2 linked regions of the Homo sapiens genome follow. The protein of the gene in region 1 interacts with the protein of each later gene in a pairwise test. Each region holds a gene or a part of one and is shown on either strand. Other genes may lie near its edges.

Region 1 (6,459 bases):
GGGAGCGCGAGGAGGGCAGGTCCCTGGAGATCAGGAGTTCAAGACCAGCCTGGCCAAAGTGGTGAAACCCTGTCTCTACTAAAAATACAAAAATTAGCTGGGCATGGTGGTGCAAACTTATAGTCTCAGCTATTTGGGAGGCTGAGGTGGGAGAATCGCTTGAACCCGGGAGGTGAAAGTTGCAGTGACCCAAGATTGTGCCACTTCACTCCAGCCTGGGAGACAGGGTGAGATTCTGTCCCCCCCTCCAAAAAAAGAAAGAAGAGTCAGAAAGAACCTAGTTTCCAACATCTATCACCAAGCAATTTGGAGAATGAAGTTGATATTTACAGAAAAAGTGATGTAAAGATTGGTTGAGAACATTGGGGAAATGGTCCAGACTAGAGATGAAGATGGAAGGTAGCTGCATGCAGGCATAGATAACCACATCCCAAAGATCATATGAAGCCAGCAGAGGCCCACGAGTAAGCATCTGGAATACAGTTAGGAGCATGGGAGCATCAACTGGCCTTTCCCCATTTGGGAAATGCAGATAAGTGTATCAACATTATTAAATTACTGCATGATTCAAATGAAATAAATGCAAGTAAATTGCTTAGCACAGTGTCTAGAACATAATATGTGCTCAATAGATCTGTTACAATGACGTGACAATGATGATAAGGAGGAGGATCATTATCATCATCATCATTATGATTGCCATGAAAATGTTAAATTCTTGAAGATGTTCCCTTTTGGGGACTTCAGGGACAGGAGAAGGAGGAAAACTTCCATGATGAATCAAAGGCAGTAATGGGAAGGATAGGAGGAGACAATGGAAAGCGGATGTCTGTTATATCGTGTTACTGTCAGCTTGTATCTTTTTCCATTAGACTGGGAAATAGTGAAAATTCAGAGCCTAGAGAGTAAATATTGTTTATCTTTCTTTCCTGCACAGCACCAGGTCCTAAGACCCTAATACAGAGCAGATGTCCATGAAGTTCTCTGGACGTTGAATTGAAATTGAGGAATAGGTTTCTGAAAGTGGCCTTACGAGGCACATGTTGCAAAACGGTCAGGTAGGAAGATTACAGACAAAAAACTCATTGAGCTGGGGATGTAAAAGGCTTGGCTGGACTTAGGAAGAGTAGTTTGGACAGATTTCTTGAGATGCTAGGATGCAAAGAATTTAGGGACAATGGGGTGATGGAAAAGGGTACACACCTAAGTATAGACCACTACACATGAGTGTAGATCACCAATAGTCAAGGGATGACTCTGAGAGCAGGCAGAGAAATGACTGGACATGCTGGCTTCAGGTCACAATGCTGCAATTCACTACAGCATGTCATTCAACCTCTCTGAGCCTCAGTGTCTTCATCTATAAAATTGGAAAAATGTCTGCCTTTATTTGTATAACTTATATAATGGTGGTTGTGACAAGATTAATGGCTGCAAAGGAGAATGGCTGAGCCAACCTTCATCTTAGACTATGTCAAGATGAAGAGGAGTTGACACCCTGGATTCCCGTGCTGGGAGCCCATGCCAGAGTCTTGATATTGTTAACCGAGGGTCACGTGGGTGATACTTGGGTGATACATGGGTCACATGGTGATTTGCAATGTACAAGTCAATTTCACACCATTAACTCATAGGGCTTTCACTGTGACCTAAACAGGAAATGTACTGCTCTCTGTGCTTTGTTGCTGAGTTACAGATGCTCACAGAGCTTAGGTAATTTATTCAGGTAAACCCACGCCATACACGGTAGGGCTGAGTGATGGCCCAATGACGCCTCACTTCAGACCTGGTGTTTGTCTTCTACATAGCTCTGCCCTTCTGCCACAAACTTGGACCAATCACATCTCAGCTCCACATTTTAAGAACAGGATTTAAAAAATAATAATTAAAGGAAAGTCTGACATGAACAAAGGTGATAAATAACTAAAGTTTCTCTTCCTTGCTCAACCTAATCAAAATGTCAAAATGCTGGCTGTGAGAGCTACAAGGAAACCAAGCACATGGGTACAAAAATTTGCAGGATCTGCAGTTCCAAGCGCTGTGACTCAGAGCCCAGGGGCAGGGAGTGACAAGACCCAGCTGTCGTTAGTGTTGTATGGCTTCAGACACATGAATCTATTCACCCAACTATTAGACAGCACACGTGTACTTGTTATCATTTGAGAGGCTAAAAGTATTGAAGACATAAAAAGGATTATAATAAGCCAAAAAGAGGACAATTCACAGTTGTCAGTGGCTCCCTGAAGTAGAGAAGTAAATTACACAGTCTCTCTCTTCTATTGTTTGAAATTTTACCATAAAAATGCATTACTTTTATAATTTTCTTAAAACAGGTAAGTCCCCCTCAAAACGGATTTTGTGTGTCTGGAGTATGTCCAAACTTGAAAAGGCTGATTGTCACAGCCCAATCTCCAATTCCCAGCTCCCAAACTAGTTGACAAGAAAAAGTGGCATTTTTCCTCACCAAGGAACTTTTATGAAATAGTGGTGTTGCCATAAAAATGCCTCCCAGTCTATGAAGGAACAGGTTAGACCAGGGGTTCACCTGTGGAAGTCTATTCTCCATGTGGAAAAGCAAGTCATCTCCAGCGTCTGACTGTCCTCACCCCAGGCTGAGAGCTGGTGCTAACCCTCTACAACGCCCAATGCCATCGTTATGTCTGACATAGTAAGACTGTGAAGTCAGCACCCATCCCACCCACACTCACCTCCTTCCCCCATTTATAAATATCTCCAATTGCTTTGTCTCAAATCATGAACTAAAGAGGAAAGTTAGATTTTAAAAAGTAGCATCTACCTATCTAAAGTCTTAAATCTGCTGATTGAGCTCCACTCTTGGCTCAAAGAGTTATCTTTGAGTTATGATGAGTTATCTTTCTTCTACGTTTCTGCAGCCCTGTGCTTGAAATCTTCCTATGACTCCCATTATAATTCATCCTAAATTTATCATTTGACTGTCTGCCCATCTACCTGGCCCTACATGGAGCTTCTGGAGAGAAAGAACCAAGACTGGTCCCTCTTGGTATCTCATCCACTTCACCCTCACCTATGCTGAAGACATGATACTTGTCCCTTCCTATAGTATGTGTTCAGAGTTTTCTTACTGAATCTGACAGGTGTGGTGCACCCAAATTCTGAACACACACTCCCAGAACTAACACACCCTTGATCCTTAGTGGATCCGTTATAATTGCATTCACACGAAGCAGCAGCTAGGAGACATCACGGTGACTTCAGCTCCCAATTGAATTGTCATTGACTTACTTAGTTCCCAATTGATAGTCAACCAAATACAACCCATCCATTGGATTCCTGAACATTTAAGTTTAATAGCTGTTTTTTTTTTCTTTTTTAGCATTTTTCCCTCTAAACGTTGAATCTATATGCAGGGGAAATCATCTGGCCCCTGGACTGCCTTGAATGCTCCTGAGCCAAGAGTAACTTGAGGTCTTAAATGTCTATTCTGAAGCCCCTCTTTTGCACAGGGACAGTCATTGACTAGGAGGAGATGCCAGTCTATTAAATCTATCATCCCAGCATCCTCTTTCTCTGATGAAGTAAAATTAAACACCTTCTTTACTCATAAATTTGGTAGGTTTTAGACAATGATGAAGAATCGGACATGGGCCGCACACAGTGGCTCATACCAGTAATCCCAGCAATTTAGGAGGCTGAAGCAGGAGGATTGCTTGAGCCCAGGAGTTCACATCTGGGCTCGAAACCAGTCTGGGCAGCATAGTGAGACCCCATTTTATTTTCTACAGAAAATTTAAAATTTAGCCATGTGTGGAGGTATGCGTTTGTGGTCCCAGCTACTCAGGGGGCTGAAGTGGGAGGACCTCTTGAGCCTGACAGCTCAAGCTGTTGTGAGCTGTAATCATGCCACTGCACTCCAGCCTGCACAAAAAAGTGAGACTCTGTCTCTCAAAAAAAAAAAAAAAAAATGAAAGAATGAGACATGTTTCACTCAAATTATAGCACCCCATCATAGGCCAAGGGCCAGGTGGTCAGCTAACCTTGAATGTAGCCCATTTTCCTCCCTTACCTCACTACCAAAAAGCCAGTCCTATTGCCAGATATTGAATATGTCCAGGGCTGGATTTATTTGGTCCCCAGGAGGGTCTTAGACTCTCCCAGCATTTTAGGAAGAGAAAAAAAGCTCCAAAGCAGCAAAGTACGGACAAGTCAGCCCCCAGCCACATGCCCTGAGACTATTCCCCAAAGGGGGCATACTTGCTCATGCCAGCCCTATCTGTACCCACAACCCAATCTGACCCACACCCAGACAAGCCCCTGGAGTCCAGAGAGCACCCGGACAGCCACAAATCCATAGGGAGCTCTGCCTTACCATTGGGTTCCTAATTAACTGAGTGAGTGGGTGTGTTCTGCATGGTGAGAGGCATTGGAATGATGCATCAGAAAACATGTCATAATGTCATCACTGTAATATGACAAGAATTGCAGCTGTGGCTGGAACCTTTATAAAGTGACCAAGCACACCTTTTCATCCAGTCTCAGCGTGGGGTGAAGCCTAGCAGCTATGAGGATCCATTATCTTCTGTTTGCTTTGCTCTTCCTGTTTTTGGTGCCTGTTCCAGGTAAGATGGGCTGGGAAATCTAAGGATTGATCTAATTGAGAATATATAATTCAGAGTCAGTATTTCTCCATCCTTCAGAGTGCTTTGGACCAAGCAGGTTTGTTGTATGGGAACTAGGCATCACCACTTTTTTTTCAGACAAGAATCATTAAGAGGCCAGGTGCGGTGGCTCATGCCTGTAATCTCAACACTTTGGGAGGCCGAGGTGGGCGGATCACGAGGTCAGGAGTTCAAGACCAGCCTGGCCAAGATGGTGAAACCCCATCTCTACTAAAAATACAAAAATTATCTGGGCACAGTGGCGGGCACCTGTAATCCCAGCTACTCGGGAGGCTGAGGCAGAGAATTGCTTAAACCTGGCAGGCGGAGGTTGCAGTAAGCCGAGATCACGCCACTGTCCTCCAGACTGGGTGACAGGGTGAGAGTACACCTCAAAAAAAAAAAAAAAGAAAAGAATCATTAAGAAACTAAATAGCTCCCCAAAGCTATCTCTTTCCCCAACTCTTCAAGGGAAGATTATTATACCAGCTGATGAGACATGAATCAGACATAAAAGTTTAATGTAGCAGGAAAGATTGATTTACTCTGAGAATAGAAGCACAGGCTCCTGTTCTACTAAGTGCAATGGTTGGAGGTGGAGTGTTGGGGCTACCTCTGAGGACACCACAGCCTCAGCACCCCCACTGTTCCTGCGGCAGTCACAGGGTCACGCCACTTCCCCGGTGCCACTGTGGGTCCACAGCTGAGCTGCAGCCTTAGAAACATTGTCTATGGGTTGTGTAGTCATACCTTCATCTTCCTCCTGATTTTATAGAAAAAGGAAAAAGAAACAAAAGAATACAAGAAAAGCAAGGGATGAGTTATTTGAGGAATTCCACAAGCCTTGTACGTGTACCAAAAGCCTTCCTAAAACCTTTCCGTGTGTGCTGTTTTGTCATTGCAGGTCATGGAGGAATCATAAACACATTACAGAAATATTATTGCAGAGTCAGAGGCGGCCGGTGTGCTGTGCTCAGCTGCCTTCCAAAGGAGGAACAGATCGGCAAGTGCTCGACGCGTGGCCGAAAATGCTGCCGAAGAAAGAAATAAAAACCCTGAAACATGACGAGAGTGTTGTAAAGTGTGGAAATGCCTTCTTAAAGTTTATAAAAGTAAAATCAAATTACATTTTTTTTTCAAAAAAAATTAGGAGCTTGATTTTTTTTTTTAAATCTGATTATTTTGGTACTTGTTTCCAAACAGACAACTCAGAAAATCTTAAGGACTCACCTTTCGTTCAAAGAAAGTAGAATCTCTGGAGAAATCTATAAGGGAGCCCAACCTTATTATCCAAGGGTTATCAGGTTCTATTCCTACTTTGTGAACGTTATGCCCCAGTGAAGTTGGACTCTTCACTCTCTTGGAATATGCCCTTTGCTTTCATGTCATCCAAGCCTTGGGCCTTTTCAGTCCCTCTACCCCAAATGGCATCTCTCCACCAAATCTATCTCTAAGGTTTTCATGCATCCCTCAGGGGCTATCCCAATTCCTTCCAAAAACTTTGTCTTCAGAGAAATAAGGAAACTGGCTCTTCCTCAGATATTCACTTTGCTTTCTCTCACCCATGCCTCTGCTCTGGTTGACCTCATGTCTGCCTCACTCCTCCAACTTCATCTCTAAACTTTAACCTGTCCTTCAGGGACCGTCTCACATTTTATCTCCACCTTAAAAACACAGGTGATTTCCCAAATGCTTACAGTCTTTCCTCTGGTTCACCACAGGGTTCTGACTTGAGTCCTCCATCTACAACCCTTGCTTGGTTTTTACATTGCGTACAGTGACATATTGCCAATCTCCATATTAGACTTTGTGAGCCTTAAAA
Region 2 (4,009 bases), on another chromosome or scaffold:
TTTTAAAATTTATTTAATTAGGATTAGGTGTGTATAAACAGTGAAAATTCAAAGAATACAAAAGATTGTATACTGAAGTGAGTCTGTTATCTCTTAGTATCCAGTCTCCCTCCCTAGTTTCTCCTGTTTCTTTCCAGAGACACTCTATTCAGAGACAAGCATCTATTTTTATTTTTATTTTGAGACAGTGTCTCACTCCGTCACCCAGGATGGACTGCAGTGGTGTGATTGTAGTTTATTGCACTGCAGCCTCAAACTGCTGGGCCCAAGTGATCCTCCCACCTTGAAGCTCCCAAGTAGCTGGCACCACAGATGCCACCATGCCTGGCTACTTTTTTTTTTTTAATTTGTAGAGACCAGGGTCTCCCTCTGTTGCCCAGGCTGGTCTCCAACTCCTGGGCTCAAGTGATTCTCCTGCCTCCACCTCCCAAAGTGTTGGGATTACCGGTGTGAGCCATTGTGCCCAGTCTATCACCTATCACCATTTTAAATGAACACACAATAACACAATGTATGGGGATAGTATAATTTATTTTACAAATCTCTTCTAAATCAAGGAGCTTATTGGACATTTTTTTTTTTTTTTGAGATGGAGTCTTGCTCTGTTGCCCAGGTTGGTGTGCAGTGGCATGATCTCGGCTCAGTGCAACCCCTGCTTCCTGGGCTCAAGTGATCCTTCCACCTCAGTTTCCCCAGTAGCTGAGACTACAGACAGGTGCCACTACACCTGGCTAATTTTTGTATTTTTAGTAGAGACGGGGTTTTTACCATGTTGGCCAGGCTGGTTTCAAACTCCTGACCTCAAGTGATCCGCCCACCTCAGCCTCTCAAAGTACTGGGATTATAGGCGTGAGCCAGCACACCCAGCCGACATATTAATATCTCTGCAAAGAAGATTCCTGTACTGAGATTTTGCTGCAGATCTCTGATTATTCCTTAACATAAATTCCAAGAAGAAGCATTGTAGGGTCAAAGAATGTAGATTTTCTGGATCTTTTGTACCAGATCATTCACCACAAATGCTGCCCACCAGGAGCGTATGAGAGGACCTCTTTTCTCTACATACTCTCCTATACTAGGTGTTATCAATCTTATTTTGATCTTTGCTAATTTGACAGTTTATATATATGTATGTAGAGATGGGGTTTCACCATGTTGGTCAGGATGGTCTCGATCTCCTGACCTCGTGATCTGCCCACCTCGGCCTCCCAAAGTGCTGGGATTACAGGTGTGAGCCACCGCACCCAGCCAAGTGTGTGTGTGTGTGTGTGTGTGTGTGTGTGTGTCTATATATATATAGACTGCAACCTCAGCTTCCTGGGATCAAGCGATTCTCTTGTCTCAGCTTCCCAGCAGCTGGGATTACAGGCGCATGCCACCATGCCCAGCTAATTTTTATATTTTTAGTAGCGATGGGGTTTCACCATGTTGCCCAGGCTGGTCTCGAACTCCTGATCTCAAGTGACCTGCCCACCTCGGCCTCCCAAAGTGCTAGGATTACAGGGGTGAGCCACTGCACCCGACACCAATTGTATATTTTTAAAGAGACAGGGCCTCCCTATGTTGTCCAGGCTGCTCTCAAACCCTCAGGCTCAAGAGATCCTCCCACCTCAGCTTCCCAAAGTGGTGGGATTACAGGTGCGAGCCACCATGCTCAGCCTCGATGGTTTTTCACAAATCACATTTAATTAGCAATTCTTTGTGTTGAGCTTTATATGTTTATCAGACATTTGTACTCCTTCTTTGGAGAATTGCAGTTTAAGTCCTCTGTACATTTTTTCTGTTGAGGTATTCATTTGCATGTGGTTGAGGTTATCAAACAATATCCATATCAAGGATCTCGGATTGTTTAAGAAGTGAAAGCAATATTTCATTTTTATTTCAAATGTGCATTTCTCTGATTATTAATGGGTCTGTACATTTTCTTTCTGTCTTTTTTGTTTTTTGTTTTTTGCAGGCGGCGTCTCGCTCTGTTGCCCAGGCTGGAGTGCAGTGGCTCACCACAACCTCCGCTTCCCAGGTTCAAGCGATTCTCCTGCCTCAGCCTCCGGAGTAGCTGAGACTACAGGCATGCACCACCATGCCCAGCTAATTTTTGTATTTTTAGTAGAGACGGGGTTTCGCTATGTTGGCCAGGCTGGTCTTGAACTCCTGACCTTGTGATCCACCTGCCTCGGCCTCCCAACGTGCTAGGATTACAGGCGTGAGTCACCGCGCCTGGCGGTACATTTTCTTGTATTTGCTCATTTGATTATGTTTCATCTTTTGTAAATCCTTAGTTGATCTTGTTTGTTTGTCATTTTCCCCAGGCAGTTTTAAGCTGTGGACAATCAGCCCATGTTTAAGGTGGCTAAGTTAAGCTTCAACCTGACCCTGGGGCTGGGCCTCGTCCTCACCATCTGGTTGCACCTGCCCTACCTGCCCGCTGTTCAAAAATTGCCCTTTGTGGGCTTCGGGACCATCTTGAGCTTCTGTGAAGGTGCCTCCTAGCTCTGGAAAGGTCCTTTGTTTTCCTAACCCCCATCTTCCTGGGCACTTCTCCCTCTTCTTTGGGGGTGGTATGAGGGTTTTGTGGGTGGTGGGAGAACAGAACCGAGAATCGAGTTACATCATTTCTTGGTCACAGGAGAGGTAGAAATGCAGGGGTTGACTCCTGGAACCTCAGGGCCAGTCACTCTGTGTGTGGTGATGTGGTTTGTGGCTGTAGCCTAGCAGATGAGGAAGAACCTCCTGTGGGACTCTTGTATGACAATGAGACCCTCTGCCTCCTGTCTCCTAGTCACCTTCATCTTCTCCACCCTCATGCTATTCCCCATTAACATCTGGATCTTCGAGTTGGAAAGGAATGTATCCATCCCCATAGGCTGGAGCTATTTCATTGGTTGGCTGGTGCTTATCCTATACTTCACCTGCGGTGAGTGGCCAGAGGGCCCTGGGGGAAGGAAGCGACATGGGTAGGGTAGGGCAGGGAAAGTGTGGAGGGAAGAGGCTGGCAATCCCCAGGGCTAGATTTTTAGGGTCTTATCTTCCCTTTGGTCTCACCCTACTTGTCACTTAACCTCCCAGTCACAACTTTCCTCTCCCCTGTCCCTGTCCTTTCCCAGCGATCCTTTGCTACTTCAACCATAAAAGTTTCTGGAGTCTGATTCTGAGCCACCCCAGTGGTGCCGTGTCCTGCAGCAGCAGTTTCGGCTCAGTAGAAGAATCTCCAAGGGCACAGACGATCACAGACACCCCCATCACCCAGGAGGGAGTCCTGGATCCTGAGCAGAAGGATACACATGTGTAATCTTTTCTGAACTCCTGGCACCAAGTTCTGTCCATTCATCTGACCCCATCTCCTCATCCTCCCCCAGCCCTTGAATAGGTTGGTCCTCATCATTGCAAGGAATGAGAAAGGGAGGATTTTGCACTCCTCTGCTTTCTCCCTGCCTTGATTGAGCTTGAGTGATGTGGAATAAATTGTCCGTCTCTTCTTTCTCATATCTGGCTGTTGTTGAGGCAAGCTAGAGGAGGAGGGAGAGGAAGGGAGAAAGAACAAGTTTGTTTTCCAGTTCTTCCTGCCCAGGAGCCTTTTGGCACCCGTTAGTGCCTAAACCTGCCCAACCTCTACCAGAACATACTTGTACATGGGCAAACGCCTCTGGAGAGCTAAACCTCTTTTTACTTTGTTACCCCTGACCCAACATTTGCTAGTTAGTGGGTGGAGGAGGTAGAGCTGATTAGGAGACAGATATCACTTGCCAACTTGTTGGCTTAAGCATAGTGAAGGATTCAAAAGCCAAATGGCTCAAAGATAAGAGGCAGGTTAAACAAGGAGCACCACAGCACAAGTGGTCAGCCCAGGTGTGTGTCCTGGGCAGCAGTCCCACCCTCTGTGTCCAGCTCCGATGACAGAGCGCATAGAGCCTGTGCCCTGGAAACCACCACTACCACCATCCCCCCAGGCTGCTATAGCTTTCCACCCAAGCCTCCCACACCCTCCACCATGTAACAGCAGGAATAAAAC

What was found.
Region 2: the proteins of DEFB103B (region 1) and ODF4 interact in binary tests that used the Homo sapiens proteins (3 or more experiments, as listed by UniProt).

The regions. Positions count from the first base shown.
Region 1 is NC_000008.11:7,428,212-7,434,670, reverse strand, and holds DEFB103B (beta-defensin 103 precursor), read left to right. Parts: upstream 1-4,322; 5' UTR 4,323-4,540; coding exon 4,541-4,598; intron 4,599-5,541; coding exon 5,542-5,687; 3' UTR 5,688-5,783; downstream 5,784-6,459. UniProt on the Homo sapiens protein: Exhibits antimicrobial activity against Gram-positive bacteria S.aureus and S.pyogenes, Gram-negative bacteria P.aeruginosa and E.coli and the yeast C.albicans. Kills multiresistant S.aureus and vancomycin-resistant E.faecium.
Region 2 is NC_000017.11:8,342,564-8,346,572, forward strand, and holds the end of ODF4 (outer dense fiber protein 4), read left to right. Parts: intron 1-2,779; coding exon 2,780-2,914; intron 2,915-3,104; coding exon 3,105-3,289; 3' UTR 3,290-3,483; downstream 3,484-4,009. UniProt on the Homo sapiens protein: Component of the outer dense fibers (ODF) of spermatozoa which could be involved in sperm tail structure, sperm movement and general organization of cellular cytoskeleton.